Homo sapiens: one gene and its partners. The protein of the gene in region 1 interacts with the protein of each later gene in a pairwise test. Each region holds a gene or a part of one and is shown in the gene's direction. Other genes may lie near its edges. The genes, in order: TCEA2, PIH1D2, HSF2BP and FXR1.

What was found.
Region 2: the proteins of TCEA2 (region 1) and PIH1D2 interact in binary tests that used the Homo sapiens proteins (3 or more experiments, as listed by UniProt).
Region 3: the proteins of TCEA2 (region 1) and HSF2BP interact in binary tests that used the Homo sapiens proteins (3 or more experiments, as listed by UniProt).
Region 4: the proteins of TCEA2 (region 1) and FXR1 interact in binary tests that used the Homo sapiens proteins (3 or more experiments, as listed by UniProt).

What each region holds. Positions count from the first base shown.
Region 1 is NC_000020.11:64,065,353-64,073,754, forward strand, and holds the end of TCEA2 (transcription elongation factor A protein 2), read left to right. Parts: intron 1-894; exon of another isoform or gene 895-980; intron 981-1,053; exon of another isoform or gene 1,054-1,123; coding exon 1,124-1,186; intron 1,187-1,562; coding exon 1,563-1,668; intron 1,669-2,694; coding exon 2,695-2,782; intron 2,783-4,008; coding exon 4,009-4,139; intron 4,140-4,412; coding exon 4,413-4,469; intron 4,470-4,907; coding exon 4,908-5,062; intron 5,063-5,136; coding exon 5,137-5,283; intron 5,284-6,517; coding exon 6,518-6,589; coding exon of another isoform or gene 6,590-6,673; exon of another isoform or gene 6,674-6,819; coding exon 6,820-6,828; 3' UTR 6,829-6,995; downstream 6,996-8,402. UniProt on the Homo sapiens protein: Necessary for efficient RNA polymerase II transcription elongation past template-encoded arresting sites.
Region 2 is NC_000011.10:112,066,736-112,072,207, reverse strand, and holds the end of PIH1D2 (PIH1 domain-containing protein 2), read left to right. Parts: intron 1-449; coding exon 450-573; intron 574-924; coding exon 925-1,170; intron 1,171-1,506; coding exon 1,507-1,772; coding exon of another isoform or gene 1,773-1,781; intron 1,782-4,202; coding exon 4,203-4,337; 3' UTR 4,338-4,410; downstream 4,411-5,472.
Region 3 is NC_000021.9:43,647,744-43,656,495, reverse strand, and holds part of HSF2BP (heat shock factor 2-binding protein), read left to right. Parts: intron 1-8,752. UniProt on the Homo sapiens protein: Meiotic recombination factor component of recombination bridges involved in meiotic double-strand break repair.
Region 4 is NC_000003.12:180,914,659-180,923,410, forward strand, and holds part of FXR1 (RNA-binding protein FXR1), read left to right. Parts: exon of another isoform or gene 1-337; intron 338-8,752. UniProt on the Homo sapiens protein: mRNA-binding protein that acts as a regulator of mRNAs translation and/or stability, and which is required for various processes, such as neurogenesis, muscle development and spermatogenesis.

The sequences.
Region 1 (8,402 bases):
GCCCCTCCCATGGCCTGTGGGTCGTGGGACTCTGATCAGGTCACCTTAGGGCAGAGGGAATGATACACACGTGGAAACACATGCACGTGTTACAGAGGAGATGGGGTGTTGCAGGGCACAGTTGCAGTTTTAAACAGGAGAGGCCTTGCTGAGAAGGTGTTGTTGAAATAAAGCCCGGGAGGGAGGGAGGGAGGGAGGGAGACGTTGTGGGAGGCCGCCCCAGGCGGTGGAGCTGCAGGTGCAGAGGGCCTCGGTGGCGGCTCAGCGCCCTTGGGGAGCACTGAGTTGCCGGGCCTGGTGTGGAAATGTGACCGGTTTGTGCCTGGCCTCGTCAGTGTTGAGGACCTGGAGGAAACGCAGATCTTGGGTGGGGAGACAAGGCGGAGAGAACGAGGTGCATTGGAACAGTCCAGGCGAGGGGTGCTGGCCTGCTTGGGGGCAACTCAGAGGCCTGGAGGATAGATGAGGAGGGGGGCTGTGGGCCTTGTAGGTGTTGGCTGTGGCCGTGCCTGGAGTGGAGGGACCCTTGAAAGTTTGGCCTCAGCTCGGGACACTGATGTTCCCGGGTTGGCCCTTCATGAGAGTTTGGCCTCAGCTCGGGACACTGATGTTCCTGGGTTGGCCCTTCACAGCTGGTGGGCGGGGGGTGCTTTGGGGAGAGGCTGCCCTGCGCATCAGGGCATCAAGACACAGGGGAGTGAATGAACCTGGGGCTGCAGTTTCACCTGGGTGTGGCCCTGGCTGCTGGGGAGGGGCCGTGGCTCTGAAGCCTCATGATTGGCCAGGGGAGCTGGCATTTCTGTTCTGGTTTGGGTCAGTGACCTGAGGTGGTTACAACGAAGTCAGTGAGGTCATTGCCACGGATGTGGGTTACAACTTGGAATGCTTGAGGCTGCAGAACCCCTCCCCTTCTTGACTGAGCAGTAAGGGTTCCCTGCTGTGGTGCAGGAACATGTGGGCAGAGCCCTGGGTGTCTCCAGGTAGAGGAATTTTGGTTTCTTTTTGACCCCAGGTTGAATCTCCAAATTGTCACTGCCTTGTGTTCTCCTCCAGTAGGCAGAAGGAGGTGATATTGTCTGTTGAGATCTAAAGTCCTTTATGAAGGTCCTCCTTCTCCTTCCAGGAGGGAGCCATGGATTTGCTGCGGGAGCTGAAGGCCATGCCTATCACGCTGCACCTGCTCCAGGTAGGTCCCTGCCTGCCCCAGGTCCAGGACAGCTCCTGGGTGCAGCCCAGGGGATGGCAGTTCTGAGGGCACCTGGCAGGGCTTCCCCACCCTCCCCACCAGGCCTTAGTTGGCACAAATGCCTGTTCCTGAGGAGAGGGTCTCTGCCTTTCTCTGGGCTCAGTGGGACAGGGAGGGGAGTCTGAGGATAACCCATCTTGTCCTCCGTGGCTGAGGCTCCTGGGTTCCAAATGGGACAGTCGCCATTGGGAGAGGCCTCTACCTCCCTGGGAGGTCCCGGGCTCCTGTCCTGTGGGGGCCACCAAGGCTCTGCCAGGAGAATCTGACCCCTAGGGTGGGCCCCTGCCTCCCCCAACCCAGACCACTTGCCTCGTAGTCCACCCGAGTCGGGATGTCTGTCAACGCCCTTCGGAAGCAGAGCTCGGATGAGGAGGTCATTGCACTGGCCAAGTCTCTCATCAAGTCCTGGAAGAAGCTCCTGGGTGCGGCTCAGGCGGTGCCCACTGAGTGCTGGGGCAGGGGTCCCAGAAGTGCTGCCTCTTGCTGGTCAGCACAGTGTAGAGTGCTGGCAGTGTCCACCCTGAGCCAGGTCGCTTGGGAGTGGGGCAGTGGCAAACCCAGACCATGAAGCGCCCAGCTTGGGGCTGGCAGTGGATCAGTGGGTGCCTGTCAGCATTGGCTGGGAGGTGTGGCCTAGGAGGCCAGGGTGTGTGCTGGGGGCAGGGTTCCAGGTAGAACAAGGAGAGAAGAGAGTTGAGGCCAGGACTTGAACTGACAGCACTGAGAGACTGGGGTGAGTTGGGAGGTCACACAGAGGGGAAGGTCATGGCCAGGAGGCTGGGAAGTGCCGGGAGAGGGGAAGCGGGAGGGAGAAGGCAGGGCCACCTCAGCTACTCAGAGGGAACAGAGGGGCAGCCCCCTGCCAGGGAAGGGAAGGGCTGGGCTGGGCTGGGCTGGACTGAAGGCTGCCTCTTCCTGGAGACAGTGGGGTGACTGGGGTTGCAAAGATGCTGCTGTCTGGGATGGAGGCAACCCTCCTAGCTCTGTCCACACCCTTGTGAAACAGTCTCTCTCCAGCCCTGTGTGGCCCTCAGGCTGTGCATGGCACAAGCATGTCCTGGTCCCCAGCCCTTGGGCCTGGCTCTGGGCTTTCAGGAAGAGCCTTCTTGGGGACATGCTTGGTCTCTCTGGCCAGGACAGGCAGGAGGGTGGGCCCCAGAGAGGCCCCAGAGGTGGCCTTTGTGAGTGGGTGCTTGTACGGGAAAGGGTTCTGGGGAGGCAGCCTCAGGACTGCAGAGATGGACAGGTTGCTGGGGAGGGTGAGGACCTGTTCACAGAGGCTGGGCAGCCTCCTGGCCCCTGGCTCCCCTGGCTGGGTGAGGGGCTGGGGGCGGGGGCTGGGGCTGGGGCCGTGTTGGTGGTCGGGCTGAGGCTGTACCTTGGTGGTGGTCTGTGCCCCTCCCTCCTCTGCCTCCCCTTGATCAGCCCATCCCCGATCTTTCCTGCAGATGCTTCCGATGCCAAAGCCAGGGAGCGGGGGAGGGGCATGCCTCTGCCCACGTCCTCGAGGGATGCCTCAGAGGCCCCGGATCCCAGGTAGCACACCTGGAAGGCAGGTGCACACACTTCTGCTTCCCAGCCTGTTTCCTTGCCAGAGAAAGGGTGCCAGTCTCCATGTGCCTAGGCACTGCTTTGAGGCTGCACACAGAGTCGGTCAGCCTCATGCTGGACACCAGCCTTGTGGTGTGTCCCGCCTGCACTGACCACTTGAGATGTGGGTCTGTGTCCACCTGGCTGTCAGCCAGCCATCCTGGCCTCTTCCTCTGCCAAGAGCTGCTGTATACCCTGAGTGGGCCTGTGGGAGCCCCCTGGCCTCTTCCCCCAAGGCCCCCTGCTGGGTCTGGTTCTTGCTGGCCCACTCTGGCTTCCCCCTCAGCCTCACTCAACGACGGTCCCTCCTTCCTGCAAAATTCTGCCCAGAACCAAAGGCGGGGGCCAACTCCCCTCCTGCCCTGCATGTGCACGTGTGGTCACTGCTGCCAGGGGGTGATAAGGGCTCTGTGGCCTGCAGCTGGGAGCTGGGGGTGCTTATTGTGGCAGGCTATAGCCGAGAGATGGCTTTGCCCTTGACCACACTGGGTTGTGGTGACTGGGCCACCAGGAGCTCAGGGACACCTTTGCAAGTTGATTTTCCTCCAGGAAGCTGCCTGCTTCTGCCAACTTCCACAGAGGGGATGAGGGGAGGGCTAGGTGGATGCAGCCTGGTCGTTGGGCAGCCCCATGTTGGGGTCCAGCCCTGAGGGGCATCCTTCTCCCATTCTGTACGTGCCCAGGGGTGTCGTCTGTGACAGCAGAACCTGGCCTTGGGCGGCCCCGCCTTGTCTCCCCCCAGACAGCTGTGGGTCTCTCCCTCTCCCTGACCAGGCAGCAGCTGCAGCTGCCCTCAGCAGAGTATTTGTGTTGCGGCCCAGTGGGTGGGCACCCCAGAGGTGGCAGGAACTGCCAGGTTCATTCTGATCGACTGGTAATGCTGCCCAGATGCTGACTGCTGGGTCTGGGATCCTGTTCCCACCTGGAGAGTACACCCTGACCCACTGGGGACCTCATGGCCCTCTCCCTCCTGGCTGCTGGGCACACCCCATGGACATCTGGGCTGGACTCAAGATAGGCAGGGCCACAGGCCACTGTTGGACTCTGGCAGAGTAGAACAAGCAGGGGTTGGTGGGGGATTATGCTGTGGCACCTGCTGCTTCTAGGACCAGTGTCTCGCTGGGGTGCCTGCAGCCTTGAGTCTGAACCCAGCTGGCCCTGGCTCTCTGCAGCCGCAAGAGGCCGGAGCTGCCCAGGGCACCGTCGACTCCGAGGATCACCACATTTCCTCCGGTGCCTGTCACCTGTGATGCCGTGCGCAACAAGTGCCGCGAGATGCTGACCGCTGCCCTGCAGACGGACCGTGAGTGCGGCCGGCCCTGGCTCCTGACACCCGCTGTGGTTCACAGGGTGGCCCGGGCCCCTGCCTGCCCGCAGAGGCCTGCTTCCAGCGGGGTGACTGTCCTCCCCCAGCCCATTGCTGTGGCCCTGGCAGGGGCTAGGGGCCTGTGCCTGGATCGTGGGCCTCTTGCAGGGACCCGGATGTGCCCTCTAAGCTGCCAGGGTGTTTTGCAGGCAGAAGGGGTGGCAGGTGGAGAAACCAGTGGGGGAAGCTAGTCAGGGCTCCCTCTTGCAGATGACCACGTGGCCATCGGTGCGGACTGCGAGCGCCTGTCGGCTCAGATCGAGGAATATATCCTTTGGGTAGGGGCTGTGGGCCTGGGTTTCTGGTGGAGTCAGGAGGCTGCCTGGCCTGGTGCCCTCTGGTGGCTGCTGGATGCCACTGCCCAGCTGTCCAGGGGTCACCTGCCTGGGTGGTCACCTGCCTGGGTGGTCAGGCTGTCTCACCTCAGGAGGGCCCCCGGACCAGCTGAAGGGCTGATTCTGTCTGCTTGTGGGGCCTAGGTCCCCTGGGGCTGTAGCCTGAAGCTGGGTCTCAGTCAGGAATGGGCCTGGGGCAGGCTTGGCCCTGCAGCCCTTCACCTCTCCACCAGGTGTGGGTGGGCAGACCGACCCCTGTGTGGCTGGGCAGAACCTTTCCAGCCCCCACCCCAACATGGCCCCCAGCGGGGCAGGTGGTAGGTGGAGGGCAGCGACGTTGTCCTCAGGTGGGTCCTTAAAACACTTGCACGCATCTTCCGGGACGTTGGAAACACAGACATGAAGTATAAGAACCGTGTACGGAGTCGTATCTCCAACCTGAAGGATGCCAAGAACCCTGACCTGCGGCGGAATGTGCTGTGTGGGGCCATAACACCCCAGCAGATCGCTGTGATGACCTCAGAGGTGAGCCCCTGTTGGAGGGGCTGGAGGGCTGCTCCCTCGGAGCGGTGGGCTAAGCCACTGGCCCCGTGCTCCAGGAGATGGCCAGTGATGAGCTGAAGGAGATCCGTAAGGCCATGACCAAGGAGGCCATCCGAGAGCACCAGATGGCCCGCACTGGCGGCACGCAGACAGACCTGTTCACCTGCGGCAAGTGCAGGAAAAAGAACTGCACCTACACACAGGTGAGCGGCCGCTGGGCACCCTCCCCCGGGCCCGGTGTCTTCAGGGCATCTGGTGCCCCTCCTTGGAGCCCATGCCTATTCCCGCCTCTGCTGCATGAATTTCCCGAGCCTCTCAGTCCCTGAGTAGGCTAAGGCATGATGGCCACCTTCAGGGACCACTCCCCTCTACCCAGGACCTCTGGGCTCCACGGGGCGGCGTCTTGGGTGGTGGGACCCACTTGTTGCGGATACTCAAGTCAGAGGGCCTGGCCTGGCCCAGCCCAGCCTGAACGGAGGGCCCTCGAGGTGTTGATGTTGGTGGGAGGGCCGTGCTGCCTGCTGCCTGGCAGTGACTGCAGGACCCTCAGTCCCTGCCATGGAGGTGGACACTGAGTGTGCTGGGGAGACTGTGGATCCCATGAGATGGCAGGGACCCTGTTAAGAGGGGAGTGCGGCTGGGTGCAGTGGCTCACATCTGTAATCCCAGCACTTTGGGAGGCCGAGGCAGGCGGATAATGAGGTCAGGAGTTCGAGACCAGCCTGACCAACATGGTGAAACCCCGTCTCTACTAAAAATACAAAAATTAGCTGGGCGTGGTGGCGCATGCCTGTAATCCCAGCTACTCAGGAGGCTGAGGCAGGAGAATCACTTGAACCCGGGAGACAGAGGTTGCAGTGAGTCCAGATCGTGCCACTGCTCTCCAGCCTGGGCGACAGAGCGAGACTCCGTCTTTAAAAAAAAAAAAAAGAGGGGAGTGTGTCGAGGCGGCCGCTGCACCTGGCAGATGGGACTCGTGAGGGGCTGCAAGGACAGCCTTTCCTTCCCCTCGAAGGCTGCATGGGGCCTGGGTCGGTGCAGAGCCTGCCTCTCTCCTGCTCCCAGCCACTGGTCAGAACAGGCTCTGCCTGTGGCCGGAGGCTCACCCTTGGGCCTTCCGGAAGGCAGCCGCGGGCACTGGGGACCCCTGCTAGTTCCCCCCACCATTGGGACCCTCTTGCCCTCAGCCAAGTCTGGGCCCTCCTGGTCCCCAGCCAATGTGAGCTGCTTCAGGCTCACACAAGGGCCTCTGCCCCGATAAACTCTGTCTCCCTCCCCCGGAGGCTCAGCTTTGGAAGGTTGGAGTCACGAGGCGGCCTCGGATCAGGTCACCTGTGGGAGCTCAGTGGCTGCGAGGCCCGCACTGCCCATGTTGAGGGGATGCCGTCTGCAGCGGAGCATGGAGGTGACCCTGGGTTCACCCAGCCCTGTTCACAGGTGCAGACCCGCAGCTCTGATGAGCCCATGACCACCTTTGTTGTCTGCAACGAGTGTGGAAACCGCTGGAAGGTGGGTGAGCAGGCTCAGGCTGCCCCTCCCAGCTCCATTCTCTGGAGGTGGGGTGTCTCAGCCTCTGTGGGGTCTGTGGTGTGAACTGGGGATGGCCCTGCCCAACCAGCCTCCTGGGAGTCTTGGGCATGGTGGGTGGAGAGCCCAGCCTTGGGTGAGCCTGTGCGGCCTTCCACTCTGGGGGATCTCATGTGGCCACAAGGCTGGAGGCCTCACCCCCTTTCTCGCAGTTCTGCTGACCCCTCGTGTAGATGTGCTGCAGCCTTGGGCCCTCCCCGGCCCACGTCCTCCGTTGACACAGCTTCTCTGGAGACCCTAGAAGGCGGCATGTCCTGCCCTCAACCTGCCTGCCTGGATTGCACCTTTCTGCCCTTTCCCCCTCATTATTAAATGTTTCTTTTTGCCATCTTGTTCTCCTCAGCCGTTACTCCTGGTGGGCCCCTGTCCCCCATGTTTGACCCGTTTCCACTGCTGTGGACAAGGCCCCTCCCTGGGGTTGGGCAGTGCTTGGGTTTGGCCCTGGTGGGTCAGCCCCAGGAGAGGAGCTTGGCTGACCTTCAGAGATCACCTGGGGCGGCTCTGCCTGTGAGGGCAGGTGGGGAGAGGGTCTTGTGTGCGTCCTGTGCAGGGCAGTGTCCTCCCCAACGCCTCAGGCATGGGCAGCTCGGGACCTCTCGGCACTTCAGGACAGCTTGTCCCCATGCTGCCTTCTCTGTTCTTGTGGGAGTTGTGGTCTCAGGGCCCTGAGCCAATTTCAGCTTCAACTCACTTAACTTCCCAGAAATGCAGGGGATGGGCTGGTGAGCACTCAACTCATGGGGCCTGTGAGATGAGAAAGATGACATTGGGCCTGGCACCAAGTGGCCCCTCCTGCCCCAGCCAGCCTGCCTCTGGGGACCCCGTCCGGCTGGGCCTGGGCGGCACCTCCTGTTGCCTCTCGACTTCTGAGGTGCTGTGGGTCACTGTTCTGGCCCGACTTTCAGCTAAGGAGGCTGAGGCCGAGGGCGTGGAGCTCATGCCCCGGGCAGGGTTAAGCACAGCCACCCACTGGGACCACTGTTCTGAGGAGGGGTCTGGTGGAGGCCAGGGCATGGGAAGAGGGCAAGCACACGGCTGTGTGTCCCCTCCAAGGGGCACTGGAGCCCCTGCCCTGGGACAAGGACACTTCTCCCCAGCCCTGAGTCTGGGGCCACTCATTCTCCAGTCTCTCCCCAGACTTGGACAAAAATGAGTAGAGACTTTGCTTTAAAAATATCTTCAATAATAAGACATCCTATTTTTGGGGGGTTAGGGATAGAGATAAATATGAAAACTTTTTTTTGATAAAACACCTAGTAAGGACATGTTTCCAGGTTTAAAGTTCATGAACATATAAAACAGAAATTGGGTCCTGCCACCTTGAGTGCAGGATTCTGAGGTCCTAAATCTGGTTCTGAGGTTCTGTGTTTGATTCTGGGGTACAGACAGCTCAAGTAGGAGGTCTCCTTATGTCACAAAACTACACGATGCGGAGGTTCTGTTCCCCACCAAAGGCTTGTCTGGGGCCCATTGGCTGCCTGGGGAGGAGGCCCCAGCGAGGCTCATGGGTCCAGCATGGCTCCTGGGGGGACCCCTACTCTCACCACGCAAGAGCCCCCAGCCAGGAGCACTGGGCCAGCCAGCTGCGGGCCGATGAGGGGGCTTCTGGCCCGCCCTGCACCTGGAGGCCCGCCCTGCACCTGGAGTTCCTGCTTGGCCACGGGTGGGCAGACCCAGGAGACACAGCACTCCCCACTGGGTCTAGGACCGTCTCCGCGGGTGGGGACCCCAGCCG
Region 2 (5,472 bases), on another chromosome or scaffold:
CAAACGCAGTTTTAATACATGAAATGACTTACTTGGAGCCTAAAATTCTTTCATTCCTGTGGTGAGTGGCTTTTAGGATATTATTTTTTAAATGTTTTTGTTTTTGTTTTTTTTGAGATGGAGTTTCACTCTCGTCACCCGGGCAGGAGTGCAATGGCACAATCTTGGCTCACTGCAACCTCCGCCTCCTGGGTTCAAGCGATTCTCCTGCCTCAGCCTCCCGAGTAGCTGGGATTACAGGTATCCACCACCACACCTGGCTAATTTTTGTATTTTTAGTAGAAACGGAGTTTCACCATGTTGGCCAGGCTGGTCTCAAATTCCTGACCTCAGGTGATCCGGCCGCCTTGGACCCCCAAAGTGCTCGGATTACAGGCGGGAGCCACCATGCCTGGCCTTAAATGGTTTTAAACTAGGTTTTGAGATGTGCAAAATTATTTGCTTTCCAGAAACCAAAAGAAAAAATACTTTTTATCAACCTGTGTCAGTGGACAAGGATCCCAGCTCCCCAATCAACCACTCATCCAGTACCTCTAACTGTTGGCAAACCAGAAGATACAACTGAGATATCAGGTACAAATAATTGAGAGAAAGCACATTGTAAAAATTTTATTAGGAATGGACAAGATCTTACTTGGTTGAGAGCATTTCAAGTAAAACTCTTTATTTGTTGATAATATAATTACAATTAGTGTATCTTTATGCAAATTTAATACTGTTTAACTTTTGTAATAAGGTGAGCTGTTTTAATCCATGCAAAAGTGCCAAGAAATGTCATAATTGCTGTAGCACTACTGTGATTACCTCTGAAAAATACAGGAATATTCTCTAGCTTTATCAGGAATATGGTTTAATATATTGCCTGACAGTATCATTAGTGCAACAATTTTTCTTCATTTCATACCCTTTCAATTACACACACAGATGCTTACACAGTCATTGATGTTGCCTACAATCCTGATGTTCTTCATGCAGCAGAAAAGGACCAAGTGAAAAAAAATCAGTTAATTCAGATGGCCATGAAATGCATTGAGGAGAAATTCCAGTTCACCCTCTCACACTCTTACCATATTACCAAATTTAGAATAAAAGGAAGCATTCAAAGAATGAAACAAAATCTGATGGGAATCCAAACTGATTCCATAGATTTAAGAGAAAAAATGAGAAGGGGTAAGTTGATGATTGTAAATGGAAAATTAAACTGCTTTAAGATGTTTTTGGATCCTGTATACATTTTGCAAACTAGAAATCTCTATTTTAAAAGGTGAAAAACTTAAGATAGAAAAATGCAAATATTAAATATTAGAAATATCATATCCTTGATTTTTAAATCCTGAAAAATTTTCAATCAAATTCTTTGGTTTAAGATTCTTTTGGCTTGATTCCCAAACTAATTTAACTGCAGCTTTATCTACCATCTCTACTAACACCACATATATTATAGCTCATAGTATTTTATGTTGTAGATTTATTTTTTATCTCCCCTCCACCCTTTTTTTCATAAAGAACTAACTCTTGGACAGATACGAAGCAGTACTATGAGCAATCCAGATCACTTTCCTCAACTGTTACTGCCAAAAGACCAAGTTTCAGGCAAAGCAGTGTGTCTGATAGAAGAGATTTCCAGTACTGAAATCCAGGTGGAGATGAAGATGCCAGCCTATGAACTAAAAATTGTGCATGATCACAGTGAGAAACCTCTGAAAATTGAGTTGAAAGTTGAATTACCTGGTATTAATTCTGTCTCTCTCTGTGACCTTAGTGTTTCTGAGGTAAGTTGAATAGATAACACTGTAAATTTGTATTGGCCAGCATTCACTAACATATATTATGCCACAGTAACAAACTACATAATTTCAGGGGCTTACAATGATTTGCTCAGGTTACCCGGTGAAGGAGCAATTCCCTTCTGAGATGTGCCATTCACATCTCAGCAAAGGGAAAATAGAATGATCAAACCATGCAGTGGATCGTAATACTTCTACTCAGACATGACACTTCATGATATCACTTCTACTCACGCTCCACTGGCCAAAGTAAGTCACAAGGCCAGTTCTACATCAGTAGGACTGAGAAGTGTATTCTCACAGTCACAGGAAGTCATATGGCAGGGTAAACGTACTATCCTCTTACAGAAGAGCAAATAGTTAGAGTCAGTCCTACAGTCTACCAGTCTACACTCTTGGTTGCAAATATTTGCTTCTTTCTGGAAGGAAAACACCTCCAATCCCAGTATCAGACTCCAAAGGACAGAATTTTGCTTTCTCTTCCTCTTGAACCATGGACTAAGACATGTAAAAAAAGTTATGTACTCCCTCAGTCCCATCTGTCATGCAATGTGGAATGGGGAGAAGATAACCGTAATTAACCATCTCAATTCAGAAATGGGAAAAATAAGAGGCACACTGCAGTTACTGGTGCACAGCAATTCTGAAATCCTAGTAGGCAGACATTGTGAGGGCTCCTTTTCTGGAGGTAGAGGATGTTCTTACTTAGGTTCCTTGAGAAAGTTCTGTAATTACCTAGCTCCCCAGTTCCATTTTTTTCCACGACCTTTAGCTTCAGTCTTCAGGAAGATGTTTTCTTTTTTTTTCCCTTTCCCACTATCCACCTTGGCCACATCTGAAGAGTATCGGAGAATGTGCCATTCTTATATGCTAAGTAGCCTCTTCAGCCTGGTTCCTGCTCATGGAATCTTGGGGCTCAAAGGATTGTTTTAAATTTTGAAGGCAGTTTCTTTTAGTCCAGGCTGGTAGCATTTTGATTCCAGTCAGTGATACCCATAATTCCTTTTTAGACATTGCCCATATTTCAAGACTTACCTGTCTCTTTAGACTTAATTGCTGTCATTTTAGCCAAATGTAAGGATTTACTGAAGTCCACCTTAGTACAGTCAGAGGTTTTGGCTGGGTACGGTGACTCATGCCTGTAATCCTAGGATTTTGGGAGGCCGAAGGGGGGTGGATTGCCTGAGCTCAGGGGTTCGAGACCAGCCTGGGCAACATGGTGAAACCCTATCTCTACTAAAATACAAAAAAAACATCAGCCGGGCGTGGTGGTGGGCACCTGTAGTCCCAGCTATTCAGGAGGCTGAGGCAGGAGAACTGCTTGAACCCGGGAGGCGGAAGTTGCAGTGAGCCAAGATCGAGCCACTGCACTCCAGCCTGGGCAACAGAGCGAGACTCTGTCTCCCCTCAAAAAAAAAAAAACAAAAAAAAAAAAAAACAAAAAAAATTCAGAGGTTTTAACAAAGAGCATAAAGATTTAATCTTTGCCTCTATATTGCCTTAATCAGCTTGGTTGATAAAAGTAATTTCTCAATTTTATCCCTTACTTGCTGAAAATAAAAATTAGTTCCACTTTTCAGTCATTGAGTCTTGGAATCTTGGGGCTCTATAAAGTCCTTTTTATTTATTTATTTATTTTGAGACAGTCTCACTCTATTGCCCAGGCTGGAGTGCAGTGGCACCATCTCAGCTTACTGCAACCTCTGCCTCCCAGGTTAAAGCGATTCTCCTGCCTCAGCCTCCTGAGTAGCTGGGATTACAGGCATGTGCCACCAAGCCTGGCTAATTTTTGTATTTTTAGTAGAGACGGGGTTTTGCCATGTTGCCCATGTTGGTCTCGAACTCCTGGCCTCAAGTGATCCACCTGCCCTCAGCCTCCCAAAGTGCTGGGATTACAGGTGTGAGCCACCGCACTCAGCCAATTCCCTTTTAATTTGACTTGCAAAATGGTCCATTCTAAGCTCATCTTTCTTGTAATATCCTGTTAAATGTAGTGAACAGAACCAACACATTACCATCTATTTTCCCACTTCTTCACCTAAAGCCACAAATCAACTAGGCACAGAGTATTTATCATCCAAATTACTGTGATAGTTTCACTAAAGGCTTCATCATTATGAAACATGGATCACTACCTTTCCAGGCTCCAATAAGTTTCCTTGCTGTTTGCTGGTCAGCCACATAATTTAGGATGGCAACACTCTACTGTGGTACTGTATCAGTTAACGTGTGATGTAGTGAGCAGCAGTAACCACCTTAAAATCTAAGGGATTTACAACAGTAATTTTTTGCTCATTCCAAGTCACATGGCAACAAATGGGATCTTTTTATGGCAAAGGAGTGAATAACTGGGAACAATAAGTTAGTATCCCAAATTTTAAGCAGGAAATAAATCTCTTGGTTTATTATTCTTAGGATGATTTATTGATTGAAGTATCTGAGAAGTACAGATTACATCTGAATCTTCCAAAACTTATTGATACTGAAATGACCACAGCAAAATTTATCAAAGAAAAATCCACGCTAATCATCACAATGCCTTTGGTGTGAAAGAAGAGCATCATATGTTTTGGGTTTTCAGTGCTAAAGTCATGTGAATTAAAGGACCTTCATTTTGGCTAAAGAGGTAGTAGTTTATCTTAAACACCAATTCCATTATTTTCTAAGTTCATTTTGACTGAGATTTTCTCTTCACCTGTTATGTCAAATATATATATATATATATATATATATATTTTTTTTTTTTTTTTTTTTTTTTGAGACGGAGTTTCGCTCTTGTTGCCCAGGCTGGAGTGCAGTGGCACGATCTCAGCTCACTGCAACCTCCGCCTCATGGGCTCAAGCGATTCTGCCTCAGCCTCCCGAGTAGCTGGGATTACAGGCATGCACCACCACGCCCAGCTATTTTTTTGTATTTTTAGTAGAGACGGGGTTTCACCATGTTGACTAGGCTGGTCTTGGACTCCTGACCTCAGGTGATCCACCTGCCTCGGCCTCCCAAAGTGCTGGGATTACAGGCATGAGACACCATGCCTGGCCATGTCTTATATTTTTTAACTCACTTCTTCTCAAATAAACATCAACCAGAATTAAAAACTATTGCTATGACACACTTGTTTTAAAAATATCTTAAGTAACTTATAATTTGGGAAAATTCTAATTGTTTCCAAGTAACAAGTGAGAACTCTTGGTTTACTGCTTGAAAAAGTCTCTAGTAAATTTTTCTATCAGGAAGAAATTCCAGACTGTGCAAGAAGTTTTTTATTATCAGGATGGGCCATATCAGTGAGTCTCCTCCAACAATAAAAATACAGGGTCAAATATAATATTCAAGCCTATTTAACCTCTGTACTTCACTGAGACTGAGTCTCGCTGTGTTGCCCAGGCTGGAGTGCAGTGGCACAATCTCGGCTCACTGCAACCTTCGCCTCCCAGGTTCAAGCGATCCTCCCGTCTCATCCTCCTTAGTAGCTGGGATCACAGGCATGTGCCACCACGCCTGGCTAGTTTTTGCATTTTTAGTAGAGAAAGGGTTTCACCATGTTGGCCAGGCTGGTCTTGAACTCCTGACCTCAAGTGATCCATCTGCCTCAGCCTCGCAAAGTGCTGGGATTACAGACGTGAGCCATGGCACTCAGCCCCTAACCTCTGTACTTCAGTTAAACAACTCTGCCAGGAGACCCAG
Region 3 (8,752 bases), on another chromosome or scaffold:
TACTCTTACAGTCCTTGTGATGATATTTGGGAGAGTCTGATGACCTAAGAAAGGGAGGTTTCCTCAGTGTAGTGACTTGGACATATGTAAGTTGGTATAAGTTGGTTGCCAGTTTTCTGAGCATCTATTAACAGCTTCTCTTTCTCTCTCTCTTCATTGGCAGAAGAATTTTATACTTTTGATAACTGAAAAGCTCTATTCTGAAAATTAAGTACTTACTGTGTAAGTTAAGGATCTTGCCAAATGGAAACCTTGCATGGAGTTTACTTGTCAGTAGAGATAGCTGGAAGTGTGTTCACTTATCTTTAGGTGGATGGGTGAGCCAGTATCTAGAACTGATTGAAGTTTAGGCTTTCTGGTGTCCATTCAGACTTTTGAGATTTGAGCTGAGCTGTTATGTTGAATACCAGTTTAGGAGCCTATTGAAGTTCCTGGACATACTCTGAGATTGTCTCAGCACTTGCTTGATTGAGGCCAAATCATGATTAAATCAGCCTTTGACGGTAAAGGCCAATTTACTGCATGACATTTGGTTGTTATCCCTCCCTGTGTGCCCTCTAGAAAAGGTGCATCCAGGGGGCCCAGGTAGCTGTAGCACTTGTCCAGACAAGAAGATAGCTCACCCCGAGAATATGAGTTTCTGGCATGTGCAAACGTATCTGGTCAGTGGGCCAGCCACATCCAGTTAGAAGGGACAGTTCTCATCCACCGTACCTTGTCCTGTTTATATTCTCTCCGAAGTCCTTGGATCCAGTCTTCTCTGCCCTGTGGTGTGCTCTGGGAGGTAGATCCCTACAGATGGGGCTCTCCTGGTTCCCTTGCTGGCTGCCAGTGGGGCTCACCAATGGAAGGCATTGCTGGGTGGAGAGAGAGGTTGGGGTGTTTCTTCCTGCTCCCTCCCTGCTTTGCTGCTGTTTTGTGGCAGTAGCTGCATCCCTCCACAACAGAGACTCCTGTCTAGAGGCCTCTTCCGTAGTCCTAGCTCTTGCTGGACTGCCCCTGCTCCTGTGGCTGTAGGGCTGTTGCTAGTCCCTGGGTACCTCGCTGTCCCTTGGTGGTTCTGTTATCTCTGCTCTCCCCTCTGTAAGTGGTCCCTTCAGAAAAGTCTCAACATCTGGGTTGATTTCTCTTTCCCACTGGGACTCTGCCAGATACATGGCGTGTCATTGGTTGCCAGAATGCCAGGTCATTGACTTCTAATTTCTCTAGTTTTGATTTCATGCTCATCCAGCAACTTTCTGAGATTAGTCATTCCTTGTGCATTTATCTTCAGGAAAGGAAGGTAAATAGGCATACACCAGTAGCAGCGTATGGCAGCCTGCTGGTTGGTTATATTCTCACTGTAAATTAATAAACTGGCATTCTAAAAAATACATCAGGGTCTCATGAGTTAGTTAACATGAGTGTCTTTAGTGATCAGTCCCGCTGCCAAAATCAAACCGAGTGAGGGCCACAAACAAATCTGTGGTCACTTGATCACAGTCTGCCTTTGGGAGATCTTATCTCATAGTCCCGGCCTTTCCCAGGCTATAGAGTCACCTTTTTCCCCATAGTCTCTCTGGCAATTCCTGCTTATTCCCCTTTGCTGAAATTTATCCTTCTCTGCTTTGCAGCCTTCCAATAGGGCTTGAGACTCAGGCCTAGGCCCCGCTCATTGCCTCACCCCATGGCTTCTCCCTAGGCAGTCTCATGCACACTCACAGCTTCAGTTACCGTCTTGATGCCAGTGGCTGCTGGATTTACTCTCTAGCCCAGAACTCTCCAAGCTCACGGCCTTGTGCCTGACTCCGACTTGGCATTTCTTCCTGCTTGTTTCATGATTATTTCAAATTCTAAATGTCTGCCCTAGCCTAATCAGTCTAAGGTCGCCAGGAACAGACCCACAGTCTGACAGAGTGAGGTTTATGGCTCTTTGCAGTGAGGAAGACCATACCAGAACACCGAGAAACTGTGGGGCATGTCAACAAAAAAGAGGATAGAGTTGTTGTAGGACTTGGAGACAGAGTGGTATTAGGTGAAGCATAAATGAAGCAAAATAGAACTGTGTCTAAAGGGACCAATATTAAGTCTGACTGCGAAGCGGACCCAGGTCCCGTTTCCTTGAAAACTACAACGTTCAAATAGACGTGGAACATTGTTCTAGAAATCCCTTACTTGAAGCTCTGCAGTAGCTGGAAATAGGGTTCTTTTCTGTGTCACAGTGACTTAGATCCTGCAGGCAAGAGTGGGATCTTCTTACTTGTATAATTTCAAAGAACAAAATTTGTGCGAGTCTGGGATTTTACAGAATAAGGCTTCTCAGTGAATAAGAAGTTAGCAGTCACTCAAAGAAGAGGTCATTATGACACTTTACAGTTGCATTGTCTTTGAGAGATATTTTCTGTTAACTTGGCACCTGACTTTATCTGTGTTTGTTATTCCAGCCTGACAGAAGTCAGGACAGACTTTTGCTTTCTCGGTGCAAGCTGATTTTTACTTCCTGTTGTCATATCTGCCTCATGCTATCTGTTCCCTGCCCCTGTCTTACACTGGCCTGCCTCAGTCTCCCCAGAGCACCAACACCCAGACTAGAGACCCAGGAGTCTTCCTTGTTACCTGTCTCTCTTCCTCACTACTCCGCATGAAACCTGTCCGCTAGTAAGTCTTGTGAGTGTTACTTCATGGATGCATCCTGAATCATCAGCCTGCGTCTGTCTCCACTGCTGTGTTCTGCCTCCTCCTGGCGGTCTCCTCACTGCCACTCTCCAGTCCCTCAGACACACTGTAGCCTGAGTAGTTTGTGGCAGTTCAATCTGATGATGCCATTCACCTGCGTAAGTCTTCAGACGCTTCTCTTTGTTTTTAGGATAAAGAGCAAAAACCTAAAAACCCCACCCAGACTCATTATCATCCAAAAACCTAAGCAAAACCATACTACGGCTTAAAAGGCTTTATATTATTGGGCACAGCCCCGGCTCAGAGTCACTGCCTAATCTGACTACCTCGACATGATCAATCTTCCTTTGAAATGTTGTCATGGTACCCTATGCTTCCTTCAGACACATGGTTTTATTTCCATTTTACTTTATAAGCTGTTGGGAGTGCAGGGCCCCTGATTTTATCTGTCATTATCTCGGCCCCTGATTTTGTCTGTCATTATCTCCCTGGCTGATTATTCGGTCTTGAGGGAGCACCCTACTGTCTCTGCATGCCCTTCTTTCTTTCTCTCTCTCTCTTCCTTCCTTCTCCCTTCCCTTCCCTCCCCTCCCCTCCCCTTCCCTTCCCCTTCCCTTCCCTTCCCCTTCCCTTCCCTTCCCCTTCCCTTCCTTTCCCTTTTCTCTCTCTCTCTCTCTCTGTGTCTCTCTTTCTCTCTTTCTTCCGAGTCTCACTCTGTTGCCCAGGCTTGAGTGCAGTGGCATGATCTCAGCTCACTGCAACCCTGCAACCTCTGCCCCCTGGGTTCAAGCGATTCTCTTGCCTCAGTCTCCCGAGTAGCTGGGATTACAGGTGTGTGCCACCACGCCAGCTAATTTTTGTATTTTTAGTTAGAGACCAGGTTTCACCACGTTGGCCAGACTAGTCTTGAACTCCTGACCTCAGGTGATCTGCCCGCCTCGGCCTCCCAAAGCACTGGATTACAGTTATGAGCCACTGCGCCTGGCCTGATGCCCTTCTTTCTAGTTTGCAGTCCTATCTCATGAAACTCACATGTGCTCCAGGAAACGTGGTGTTAACAGAAAGGAAGGATCAGATTGGGCTGGGCTGGTTCCAGGAGGTTTACTGTGGCCTCCTAAGGCATCTTTTATCTAATTTTGGCTTTTGAGTTTTTACCATTTAGCCAACATCAAGAAAAATAAAAATTCTTCTTTTTATAAGGCCTAGATCTGATGGCCCTCCCCAAGCCTTCCCACGAGCCTGTCTTCCTAGACTAATCATGCTAGACATGACTCTAAGAATAGAGCTCTACAGAGGAAATTCACGATTGTACTGTGGCAGCAAGAGCCGTTTGACATACTGATTCTTCTACTCTCCCACTAGCCCTATTGTCCAGTATCCACTCCTTTTGCTTCTAGAGGTTAATGTGCACTTCCAGTTGTTTTTTTTTTTTTTTTTTTTGATGGTGTCTGGCTCTGTCTCCCAGGCTGGAGTGCAGTGGTGTGATCTCAGCTCACTGCAACCTCTGCCTCCCGGGTTCAAGCTATTCTCCTGCCTCAGCCTCCAGAGTAGCTGGGAATACAGGCGCCTGCCATCACGCCTGGCTAATTTTTGTATTTTTAGTAGAGGCAGGATTTCACCATATTGGCCACGCTGGTCTCGATCTCCTGACCTCAAGTGATCTGCCCGCCTTGGCCTCCCAAAGTGCTGGAATTACAGGCATGAGTCACCATGTGCTTCCAATCTTAAGCAGTGACTAAAGGCAACCTGAAGGTAGGAATGAATACAGGCAGGGAAGGAGTAGACCTGATTTGAGAAGTTTCTTTTAGAGTGTGGATATAGTTTTGTTTGGATGGGCTTGGGCTATACAGTAACTTGTAAGCCAGCTAGAGGATTGAGGTGACACATCAAGTAGCGAATGGGGCTTGATTTTGACTCTAGCCCAGCATCTCCCTTTGGGAGGACTGGGCAAGGTAAATGGCAGTTTGCAATAATACTGACGAAGGTGTTGCCTGAGAGTCTTAGGGAGTTGATGGGTACTGGGGAGAGGCATGATTTGTTAGGAGGAGAAGGGGAGATATTCTAGGCCAGGGCGGTGGCATGTGAAAGTCACACATGGGATTGAGCAGGACCGATTGCAGGTTCATCAGCTAGTGTTTGATTGCTGTATGGAATAAGGATTGGGGGTATAGCAGAATTAGGGATGGAAAATGAACAGTTTATGGAAGACAATCATAGATTGTTTTTAATTTGAGATGAGAGTCAACTGGAAATTACCACATGGAAATAACCATCAAAATAGTGATCAAAATGACGTTTTTTAGGAGAATGGTTTTTATAGGTGAGTGTAGGATAGGTTTGAAGAATTGGGTGGAAGATGAATTAGAGCATTCATCAAGGAAGGTCGTGAGTTCCATTAGTGTGTGGGACTGTGGCTGTATGGATGGAATGGAAGGGACGTTTGATTAGTCTTGGTGGTTAAGTCAGGACAAAGTGTCATGATTTATGATCGGCAGTGAGAGTATGGAGATACAGGATCATCTATATACTGCCTGCTGATTAGTGTCTACAAAATGTGGACAGTAATGCTTACCTCATAGGCTATGGCAAAGCTTAAAATGAGATAAGCTCTGTAAGGTGTGTGCCACTGTGACTGGCTCATAGGAGTCCCTGGTAAATAACACCTCCTCAGATGGTGTGGGAAACTATGTGAACCCTTGGGGAAATGAAGAGAGACTCCAATTCACAGCCCAGCAGCTTAGCTTCTGGCTCGGCCATTGTCACTTCATGAGTTTGGGAAAAGTTTAGGGAGGTTCGAGTAAGACTCAGCTATGTTTGCAAGAGATGTAAACCGGGCCGGGTGCGGTGGCTCACGCCTGTAATCCCAACACTTTGGGAAGCCAAGGCTGGCAGATCACTTGAGGTCAGGAGTTCGAGACCAGACTGGCCGACAAGGTGAAACCCCATCTCTACTAAAAATACAAAAATTAGCCGGGTGTGATGGCATGTACCTGTAATCCTGGCTACTCAGGAGGCTGAGACAGGAGAATCGCTTGAACCCAGGAAGCAGAGGTTGCAGTGAGCTCAGATCATGCCACTGCACTCCAAACTGGGTGACAAAGTGAGACTCCATCTCAAAAAAAAAAAAAAAAAAAAAAAGCAAGCCTGAAAACACTATAGGAACCTCCATTTGACTTGTTAAGGTAGTGGCACTTAAGTACTTAGTAAGATATCACCCTCTGTTTTCTTTCATCCCTTCTTGTGCTTTATTCATCCAACAGTGGTGAATAAATCAGTGGGTATCAAAAATTTGTTTAAAACTAGGAAAATCCTATTTTTTATAAATAAAATTTTATGGGCCGGGCACGGTGGCTCATGCCTGTAATCCCAGCACTTTGGGAGGCCGAAGTGGGCGGATCACGAGGTCAGGAGATCGAGACCATCCTGGCTAACATGGCGAAACCCTGTATCTACTAAAAATACAAAAATTAGCCGGGCATGGTGGCGGGCGCCTGTAGTCCCAGCTACTCGGGAGGCTGAGGCAGGAGAATGGTGTGAACCCCAGAGGCGGAGCTTGCAGTGAGCCGAGATCGCACCACTGCACTCCAGCCCGGGCGACAGAGCGAGACTCTGTCTCAAAAAAAAAATTATATAATAGTATATGATGGTTCTAGATGTAAAATAGATGAAAACTGTATCTTCTGGGTATTTGTTTTTAAAATTAAGTTTTAGAACATTGACTTATAAAATCAGTAAGTACAATGAAGGTGGTGCGATGAAAACACAAATTTAGTATCAGGGATTTTGGAAGGTACTTGGATGATCACTTTCAGCATCCAGTTTGTTTTTAGTTTTGCTTGTGAAGTCGCAAGAAGACACAATCCCACAGATAAGGAGTTGCAGATGGTGGTTTTGAAGTAGTTCACCTAGCAACATGAAGACACTTTCTAATTAAACTGATATGAAGCTTGAAATAAGAGGAGTCAGATATTTTTGTTTTACAATTAAATCGCTAAGATCGAGCAATTCTTTGCTTTCCTTGATTGGCAATTGTTCATTTTGGAGAGAAATAATAAAAAAGCCATTCAGTCTGTTTAAATCTTCATTGTCTTACAGAAAACACTTTTCATGCATTATGCTGCATTTGACAATTTGGCACCTTAGTGGCAGTCAGATATTCACTGACAGTCTCAGAGGAGCTGGAATTATTTTTGTATGTTGACAGCACACCTAAAATGTTGGCCTCATTTCTGAAATAATTAAAATGTTAAATAATTTTAACCTTTTAAAATTTGTTTATATGTTTTTTGATGTTAATGTGAACCAGCCTTGTTTTGGTCATTGAAAATATCAGCAGTGAATGCGAACTAGTGTAGCCATGATACGCTGGTGAGATATTTGACCAACAGATTTTTCTTTCTTTTTTTTTGAGATGGAGTCTCCCTCTGTCACCCAGGCTGGAGTACAGTGGCATCATCTTGACTCACTGCAACCCCAGCCTTCCTGGTTCATGCCATTCTCCTGCCTCAGTCTCCCGAATAGCTGGGACTACAGGTGCGCGCCATCATGCCCGGCTCATTTTTGTATTTAAAAATTTTTTTTCAAAAAAATAAAAAAAACCCCAAACTGAAAAACAAACAAAAGGCCAGGCGCGGTCAGCACACCTGTAATCCCAACTACTTGGGAGGCTGAGGCAGGAGAGTCGCTTGAGCCCAGGAGGCAGAAGTGACAATGAGTTGAGATCATGCCACTGCACTCCAGCCTGGGCAACAGAGGGAAACTCCATCTCAAAAAAATTTTTTTAATTAAATAAATGAATGATGAGCAAATGAGGCAAACAAAATGTTAATAGTAGGTAAGTCTGGGTAAAGAGAGATAACAGGAATTTTTTTTGGCATTAGTTTTTGTGAATTTGAAATTACTTCCAAATAAAAATTGTAAATAACATTGTAAAATGGAGATATTAATTGAATGTTTATGGGACTGTAGTTGTTCCCCAGGTACTCTTAGATTCTTAGCAGTAGGATTTGAAAACCACTGCGCTATGTGATTTCTAAAGTGTAGGATATTTTGAGATTAATTTCCTGAGAGTTTGATACGGGGTACCCCCATTTCAGTTCTGGGAAGAATTATTTGTAGTCTGTAGAAATAAGAACTTGAGAAATATCCATGAAGAGTAGAACCAAAGAGTCAGCACCAAAAAAGGATTATTACTTTGACTCGGAGTTTATTGTGGCCCAGATAAAAGAACATGAAGAGTGTGTCACATCCATATCCTGGCAGGGAACAAAAGGAGTAAACGGAGTAAAGTGAAGAGATTAAAGTGTGATCAGGGTTGGGGGAACCAGTGCCTGGAGAAAGAAGCATCCGGGAACTAACGAGTGGAGCGCCATTGCCTCCCCTGGGCTGAAGGAGCAGAAGGGAGAGAGGTACCAGACGTGGCGAGAGGCGTTGCTCCAGACAAGATGCTTGACAGCACCTGGGACCTCACCCAGGAGGATGAAGCCCAGCAGGGAGGATGGAGTGGGGAGACATGTCCCATCCTTGGTCATCTTCTCTAGTCCTCCAGTTTCCTGCGGGGCTGCTATTGCATCCAACAGGAAGCCATAGGACGAGGGAGCCTTGTTACTGTGGGTCTTCACATCTGCCTCTTGGGGCACAGATCAGGGTGGAGATTGTCCAGAACATAGGAAAGTAGAGGGAAAAAAAACACTTGGGGAGCTTATGGACAGAGAAGGTGGCAAGGTGGTCAAGATGGAGGCGGAAGAGGTGTGTGGTGTTTTAATATCACCCGTGACCGCTCTGCTGTTCATGTCATATATGTGTGTCAGTGAATGAAAAGCAAAATTCCCTGACTCTGGTTTGGGAAATCAACAGAATTAATTTGAGTTCAGCAAGATTGATTTTAGTTTTTTTTTTTTTTTTTTTTTTTTGAGATGAAGTCTTGCTCTGTCGCCCAGGCTGGAGCGCACTGGCGTGATCTTGGCTCACTGCAACTTCCGCCTCCCAGGTTCAAGCAGTCCTCATACCTCAGCCTCCCGAGTAGCTGGGACTATGGGCGTGTACCACCACGCTGGGCTAATTTTTGTATTTTTAGTAGAGATGGGGTTTTGCCATG
Region 4 (8,752 bases), on another chromosome or scaffold:
ACAATGAATCAAATGTCCCCATTTTGGAACTCTGAAGTATTTATAATTGATCTCTATACATATCTACAATCTACTGCTTGTTTCTACTTAGACTTTGACTCCATTACTCATTTTGCCTCACAAAGTGAGTTGGTACTTTGACAAAGGTTGGAAAGGACACTAGCCACCTGTGTGTGCACTGAAATCATGTACGCTTGAACATTTGGAATTTTATGTCCAGCCATAATCCACTTGCATATGCACTTTGTGGAAACTGTGGTCTTCAGAACTCTGGAAGAATGAGAATGGCGGAGTGGAAAAGAGTCCTGGATTTGAAGTAAACAGATGAGAATTCTAGGTCTGTACTTCACCTTACCATTATCTAACAATGGACCCCTGAACAAATCTCTCTGTCTAACATGAGGGGCTTGAAGTAGTTCTGTGATCCCCAGTATATTTTTATCCTATTAAACTGCTGACTTGAAAACCATTGGCTTATTGCACAGAAGTTTATTGCTTTTTATTCATTAGAATGTAAAAGTTAATGTTAATTTACATACAGTAAAATAAGCCTTTTTTGGTGTACGGTTATGAATCTTGATAAATGCTGACAATTATCAAGATTAACTGTCACTTTAACTGTGGTGGTGTCAGCATTTATCAAGATTCATAGCCCCCAAATTTCCGTCATGCCCTTTTCAGTCAACCATTCCTCAACCCCAGCTTCTAGAGTGTTTTCTGTCCCCATAGTTTTTCTTATTCAGAACGTTACGTATATAGAATCGTACACTATATTGTGTAGTGTTTTGAGTCCGGCTTCCATTTAGCGTAGAAGCAATTTAATTTTAATTAGTTTTTTTCCAATTTAGAAGATAATACATGGTCACTGAGGTAATTTTGGAACTCAGCAAAAACTAGAAGTTGCCTTGAGATGAGAGCTGTTAACATTTTAGTGTATTTCTTTGGTTTTTTTTGGTGGTTTTTCAATGTACAGGTGATCTGAATTTCCCTTTTTTCCCCTCCTCTTACCCCGTATAGGCAGAAGACACACATTTGGCCGTAAGTGTGAATTGCCATTGATGAGTTTCAAAGTCAGTTATCATGCCTTGAGGCAGTACTCTGTAGACTTTGATTAAAGTTTTTGTAGTAGAACTGAAACTTCATTTCACAAATTAATTGGAACCAGTGAAACGCTGAAGATCTGAATATTTTACCTAAAATTAGGGTAGCCTTTAAAAAATAGTATGTACACAAATGGTGGCATGCTAAATACATTGTTCTGCATTTAACAGTGGCTCTATAGTTAGAGATATTAGAAACTTGATTTGTGCATGTTCGTAGCCCTATAAATCTGCGGGGATGAGAGAGAATGGGAAGATGTTAATTAAGCATTTGTTGGTGGGCTATGCTGTTATATAAAATAACATTATAGGCTTTGTACTTTTGTACTTCTCATACCTAAAGTAGCATCTTAGGTTTTATACTACTGGACATTTAAGGTGTCTTGAAAAAGAAAGTTTTAATGAGGTAGAATGTATATTCTATAAAACAACCTTTTTTAAGTGTACAGTTGAATGACAGTGTATTTACAGAGTTGTGTAACCACCGCCACAGTCTTCCTTCAGAACGTTCCATTACCCCACAGAAACCTCCGGCTCATTTGCATCATTAAAGTGCTTTTTAACTGATGTATAAATATATATTAGTCTTTGTAATAGCATTGCAATTTGTATGGCCTTGGGCTGAGTATAATTTCATTTTATTTTTATTTTTTGAGACAGAATCTTGCTCTTTTGCCCGGGTGGGAGCACAGTGGTGGGAGCGCAGTGGTGCGATCTCGGCTCACTGCAACCTCCACCTCCCAGGTTCAAGTGATTCTCCTGCCTCAGCCTCCCAGGTAGCTGGGACAACAGGCATGTGCTAACATGGCCGGCTAATTTTTGTATTTTTAGTAGAGACGGGGTTTTACTGTGTAGGCCAGGCTGGCCTCGAACTCCTGACGTCAAATGATCGCCCTCCTCGGCCTCCCAAAGTGCTGGGATTACAGGTGTGAGCCACCACGCCCGACCATGAGTATAATTTTAAATAGAAGTTGGAAGTAAGTCACTCAGTTTCTGGCTCATAGGAAAGTTTCCATGATGTTCGAAGGGAACCTGTAAGCTCTGAGATTTCAGTCACTTTCTGCAGAAGGTAGAGTTACATTTTTTTGTTTTCTTGAGACGGAGTCTTGCTCTGTCACCAGGCTGGAGTGCAGTGGTGCAATCTTGGCTGGCTGCAACCTCTGACTCAGTGGTTCAAGCGATTCTCCTGCCTCAGCCTCCTGAGTAGCTGGTATTTCAGGGACGCACCACCACGCCCAGCTAATTTTTTGTATTTTTAGTAGAGACGGAGTTTCACCATGTTGGCCAGGATGTTCTCGATCTCCAGGATGGCCTCCATCTGTCCGCCTCGGCGTCCCAAGGTGCTGGGAATACAGGCGTGAGCCACCGCGCCTGGCCAGAGTTAATTACTTTTAGAGCTGTCTGCTTCCACCGTGTAACTGTCTACAAAACAAATCTCAAAGTACTATATTTCTATAATTCCCTGTTTAGCTTGATTTAATATTAAGTGGAATTTGAGCGTAATCTAAATTATGCATAGATATATTAATAATGATGACCAATAGAATTATAGTAAAAAGTTGCGTTCAGAGGGTATGCTGACTTTTCAAGGTTAGTACAGAATCTTGTTAGTTGGTTTCATTGTGGAGATTTGTAATTGAAAAAACGATAATTGTCTTAATATTAGGCCACCCTGTTAATTTAAAAATACATAGTTCCAGATAATTTAAAATGGTTGTTTTGCATATTTAAAAAGATAATTTTCATTAAAATGCTAAGTAATGAAGATTTAACTGGATGTCAAAATAAATGATCACAACAGCTTTTATTTTCATTCACAGATAGTTGCAAAACGTGGAGGGGAAGGAAGGCTGGGATTTTCTACTCTATCTTGCTGATGGTGATCACAGTTATTAAAAAGTCAACTTAGGCCGGGCGCCGTGGCTCATGCCTGTAATCCCAGCACTTTGTGGGGCTGAGGTGCGTGGATCACGAGGTCAGGAGTTCGAGACCAGCCTGGCCAACATAGAGAAACCCCGTCTCTACTAAAAATACAAAAATTAGCCAGGTGTGGTGGCACGCGCCTGTAGTCCCAGCTACTTGGGAAGCTGAGGTGGGAGAATCGCTTGAACCGGGGAGGCAGAGGTTGCAGTGAGCCGAGATCATGCCATTGCACTCCAGCCTGGGTGACAGAGTGAGACTCTGTCTCCAAAAAAAAAAAAAAAAAAAAAAGTCAATTTAAATGCATATATTTCTTGTAAAGTTTTGTGTTTTGTATTAGAAGAGCAACACATAATTACGAAAAATATGAAAGCAGAAAAGCACATCTTACCTATCTAGAGAGATACTGTCAAGGCCCTGGCTTTAAATACTTCCAGAAAACATTATTTTTCCGTATTTTTACTTTTATGTACCTGTTATTTTCTATGTCAGATATTTGTGTGCCTTCTGTAAGATAATAGTTTAAGATGAGAGCCTGTTCTTTACTAGATTATGTATTAAGCTTCTATATGTATTTCCTGATTTTCTTTTCCCAAGAACTCTGTGAGGTTGGTTTTATTTTTTTAATTTTTATTTTTTAGTAGAGATGGGGTCTTGCTATTTAGATCAGGCTGGTCTCAAACTCCTGGTCTCAAGCAATACTCCCATCTGGGCCTCCCAGAGTGCTGGGATTACAGGCATGAACCACTGAGTCTGGCCAGCATTAGGGATTTTTCAAAGTAACTTTTAGGATAGTGAGCTTACATTTTCATTAGGAGGAAAAGGGCAGATACTTTGCTGGATTATCACTCTGGATAAGTTCTCTATCACAGTGTTTAAGGTTGTCAAATTAGCTTTTTTGTAGTGGGAAGAGCAATATGCATTCATTCCATGATTGACCCCTAATTCTTGTAATAGTTTTTAACTGGCAGGATCATCCAGGTAAACACCTTGGTTTTTTCATATGCAGTATGAAGCAGTTGTATTTCCTTTAACCTATTTATAAGTTGTGAAATCTTTGCTAGTTTCTGTTGATGGCAGTCCCATCTACCTCTAGCAACTGTAACTAATTTTCATTGAGTACCCAGACTACTTACCAGACTTTGTAGGTGCCTTACTCGAATTTCCCATTTAATCCTTTCAACCACAGTGAAGTAGATAACTCCACTATTTGAGAATACTGAGGCTAAGTGAATCCAGGTCTGTAAAGTTAGATGCTGATTCAAGATTCAGACTCTAAAGTTTGACACCACAGAACCAATTTCTTTAACCATTATGGTGCAATATTTTTTGAAGTACAAATGTTTTGCCACATTATTACTAATTTTGAATTGTTACTAATATGAGGAGAATTATGAGGAATAAATTGGGAGGTTCCCAGAGAAATGATTTGAGCTATGCCTTTGCTTTAGACAAATCTGCTTTCTAATATAGTAGCCACCAGCCATGGAGCTGAAATGTACTAGTCTGAATTGAGACATGCTTTAAATGTAAAATACAAATTGGGTTTCAAAGCCTTAGAATTAAAAAAAAATGTGAAACACCTAAATTTTATTTTTTTTTTATTTTTGTTTTTTTTTTTTTTGAGCCAGAGTCTTGCTCTGTTGCCCAGGCTGGAGTGCAGTGGCACTATCTCGGGTCATTGCAACTTCCGCCTCCTGGGTTCACGTGATTCTCATGCCTGAGCCACCCGAGTAGCTGGGATTATAGCTGTGTGCCTCCACGCCCAGGCAATTTTTGTATTTTTAGTAGAGACAGGGTTTCACCATGTTGGCCGGCTGGTTTCGAACTCCTAACCTCAAATGTTCCACCTGGCTCAGCCTCCCAAAGTGCTGGGATTACAGGCGTGAGCCACTGCGCCGGGCCAATAATTTTTTACATTGATTACATGTTGGATAATATTTTAGGTATATTAGGTTAAATAATATTGAAATTAATATTATCTATTTCTTTTCATGCATTTTGTTTTATTTTGAGATGGAGTCTTGCTCTGTTGCCCAGACTGGAGTGCAGTGGCGCAATCTCAGCTCACTGCAACCTCTGCCTCCCGGGTTCAAGCAATTCTCCCGTCTCAGCCTCCTGAATAGCTGGGACTAAAGGTGCCAGCCACCACGCCCGGCTGATTTTTGTATTAGAGATGGGGTTTCACCATATTGGCCAGGCTGGTCCCAAACTGCTGACCTTATGATCTTCCTGCCTCAGCCTCCCAAAGTGCTGGGATTACAGGCATGAGCCACTACCTCCTTCTTTTAATCAAGATAATTTATGCTATCAGTGTATTTAACTTGCCTGCCATTCTCTATCTTCAGCGTTTTTTGCTGTCTATTTTGGGAAGATGAACAGAGGTCTCCATTAGTAAAATAGCTGATGAAGTTTATTATTGTTGGCAAAGGGATGCGCTCCCGTGTTGAGATTTCTTCAGATCAGGAGCCTCAGAGGCTCCTGAATTCCTTTCTTAATCTACATAATTAATCATAGGTAGCTGTTTTTGGTTCCCTTTTCATGTAACCTTTTTGTTTTTACAGTTTTTCAGGTTATTTTCAAGTCTTAAATTTTGTTGATATATGTACTTAGTTCATAGTAAGCCCTCAGTGTATATTTGTTGAATGATGTGTAATCTTAGTAACTGCTAACTTCATCATTTCTGATTTTGGTTCAAACTGAATTTAAATGATTTTTTTAAAGAAGTTATGTTTTGATCTTGGTCAAGTTCAGATATTGTCACAAAACTTTATGCATGCATAGAGGGAACTGTATAGAACTTAAACTCTGCAACGAGAAAGTCAGAATAGTTTTGTTCTTTTTTTTTTTTTTTTTTGAGTCTAGCTCTGTTGCCCAGGTTGGAGTGCAGTGGCACAATCTTGGCTCACTGCAACCTCTGCCTCTTAGGTTCAGGCGATTCTTGTGCCTCAGTAATTATTGTAGCTGAGATTACAGCCATGCACCACCACGCCCGGCTAATTTTGTATTTTTAGTAGAGATGGCGATTTGCCGTGTTGACTAGGCTGACCTTGAGCTCCTGATCTCAGGTGATCTGCCTGCCTCAGCCTCCCAAAGTGCTAGGATTACAGGTGTGAGCCACCATGCCCGGCCCAGAATAGTTTTGGGTGGCCATTTGGAACTGTTAACTTATTCCATTTCAAAGAGAACTGTTAGATAATACATACAAATGGGTGAACCTAACAAGCCAAGAACATTACTGGTATGTAAACAGTAGTAGTAGACACTTGTGTATTCTTAAAGAAATCTTCACATCCTCATTGTCCTTTTTCTTTTTTCAAACTCAGAACAGTTACATGCTCAATACTAATGAATGCTGAATGCTTGCCTTGAATAATTTTTTTTTCTTATTAGAGCTTACTCCATAATTGGCTGGGCGTGCTGGCTCTTGACTGTAATCCCAGCACTTTGGGAGGCTGAGGCGGGTGGATCACTTGAGGGCAGGAGTTCGAGACCAGCCCGGCCAACATGGTGAAACCATCTCCACTAAAAACACAAAAATTAGCAGGGCATGGTGGCTGGTGCCTGTAATCCCAGCTATTCTGGAGGCTGAGGCAGGAGAATCCCTTGAACCCAGGGTGGGGGTGTGTGTGGAGGTTGCAGTGAGCCAAGATCACGCCACTGCACTCCAGCCTGGGCAACAGAAACTCCATCTAAAAAAAAAAAAAAAAACTTGTAATAATTATTGTAATGTATAATGTAATTGGTAAATTTGCAGACTTTTTGAATTTGTGGAACAAGTATCTAGTGATTTGGAATAATTTTACTTTGTAGATTTAGTTGCGTAGATCTTTTTAAAAAGTATATTGTTTGAAGTTAAGACATTTTTTTGATTGCAGTAGCAGCCTTGACTATTTGGTACTTGTTGGAATCAAATTACAACTTAGATCTTTTAGTTGTGGTAAGCATCTTATAAGTTTATATCTTATAAATTTGAGATCCCTAGAGATGGAAAAATTAGAAGTGGGGAGTGGTGATGCACATACGTGCTGTATGGAAAACGTGTTGGCTGACAATAAGATATATTCTAATTCTTAAAAGTATACGTTTACATAGACACGTGTATAATTTTACACACACGTAAGTATGATATAAAAACTTAGTCTGTTGTATTTTTTTTTCCCCTGGTTGCTCTTCACCACCTGGGTCTCTCACCTCCGCCTCCATATTAGGTAACCTTTGTTTGTAGCACATATACGTGGTTCCATATATTTCACTATGCTCGTAGAATTGTATATAGGTACGCATTCAGTTACAAGTATAGGGTTTTTCAGTATTACTGTATAAAAATAGGATCATCCACATCTTAACTATTTTCATGTGGAGTATGATTTATTTTTTAAGGTTATATAATCATAACAATGTATTAAATTCAGCCATTCCCCAGTTAATAGACATACACTTTGTTTTCAGTTTTTTGTCGCTCCACATAACTATTTCCATTGGATAGATATCAAAGAATGGGATAGCTTGGTGAAAGGGAACCTTTAAAAAAACAAAAAACTGTAATAAATGTTGAAAGATTGCTTTCCAAAAAGGCTTCTGATGCTTCCTGTGTTCTCCATCAATAATAAATGGCAGCTTTTTCTTTTTATCTGGGCCAGAAGTTGGCTTTATGATCTTTAATTTTTGCCAGTCTGTTGGATGTAAAGGGATATCTCATTGGAACTTGATCCCAGTTGTGAATTTTAATGTTGTTTGCCATTTGAACTTGTTCTTTTAAGACTTGCCTTTGTTTGCCATTTGATTTTGTTTTTCTAAGAATTGCCTGTCTTTTGCCCATTTTTTTGTTGGGGTGTCCTTTGTCAGTTTTGAAAATCTTTCTGTATTATGGATATTAAGCCTCTGACCTGATGTAAGAGTGTCCACTCTCCCACCTATTTATTTAGGTTATTAATTTTGAGATAGGATCTCAAAATAAATAATACTGTGTCACCCAGGTTGCAGTGCAGTGATAGGATCATGGCTCATTGCAGTCTTGACCTTCCAGGTTCAAGCGATCCTCCTGCCTCAGCCTCTGGAGTATCTGAGACTACAGACATGTGCCACCATGCCCAGCTAATTTAAAAAAATTTTCTGTAGAGATAGGTCTTGTTATGTTGCCCAGGCTGGCCTCCAACTCCTGGACTCAAGTGATCTTCCTGCCTCGGCCTCCCAAAGTGCTGGGATTACAGGTGTGAGCCACACTGTGCCCTGCCTCCCCATCCTTTTAACTTCTTTTCTTATATTGCTGGTCATAGTGAGATTTTAGTTTTTAACATAATTTTTTTTTTCCATTAAGGCTTCTGGGTTTCCAGTCCTGGTTAAGACAGTCTGTGCCCAGATTATACATACAATTTCTTAGGTTACTTTGGAGTTTTATTTTTACATTTAAATAGTACGTTAATATTTTTGCATATTTGTATGTATAGGCAGTTATGCTAGTGCCATGTATTAATCATCTCTGTTTGAAAGTTGTTTTTCTTGCATGTGTGTCTCTCCTTAGCTGTATCTCCCTCACTTCTAGGATTGGGATGAGAGGTTGATGCTCAGCATCCTGGAGGGCTGGATCCCATTCCAGATTGATAGACCCTCCTGAGAATTACTCCAAAGAGTCTGGGGTGTCCTGGGAATACCATACAGAGATCTCGAGAAGGGAACATTGTGATTTGCTTTTTGGCAAATAAGGCCAGTTAGGGATCTTATTTTCCTTA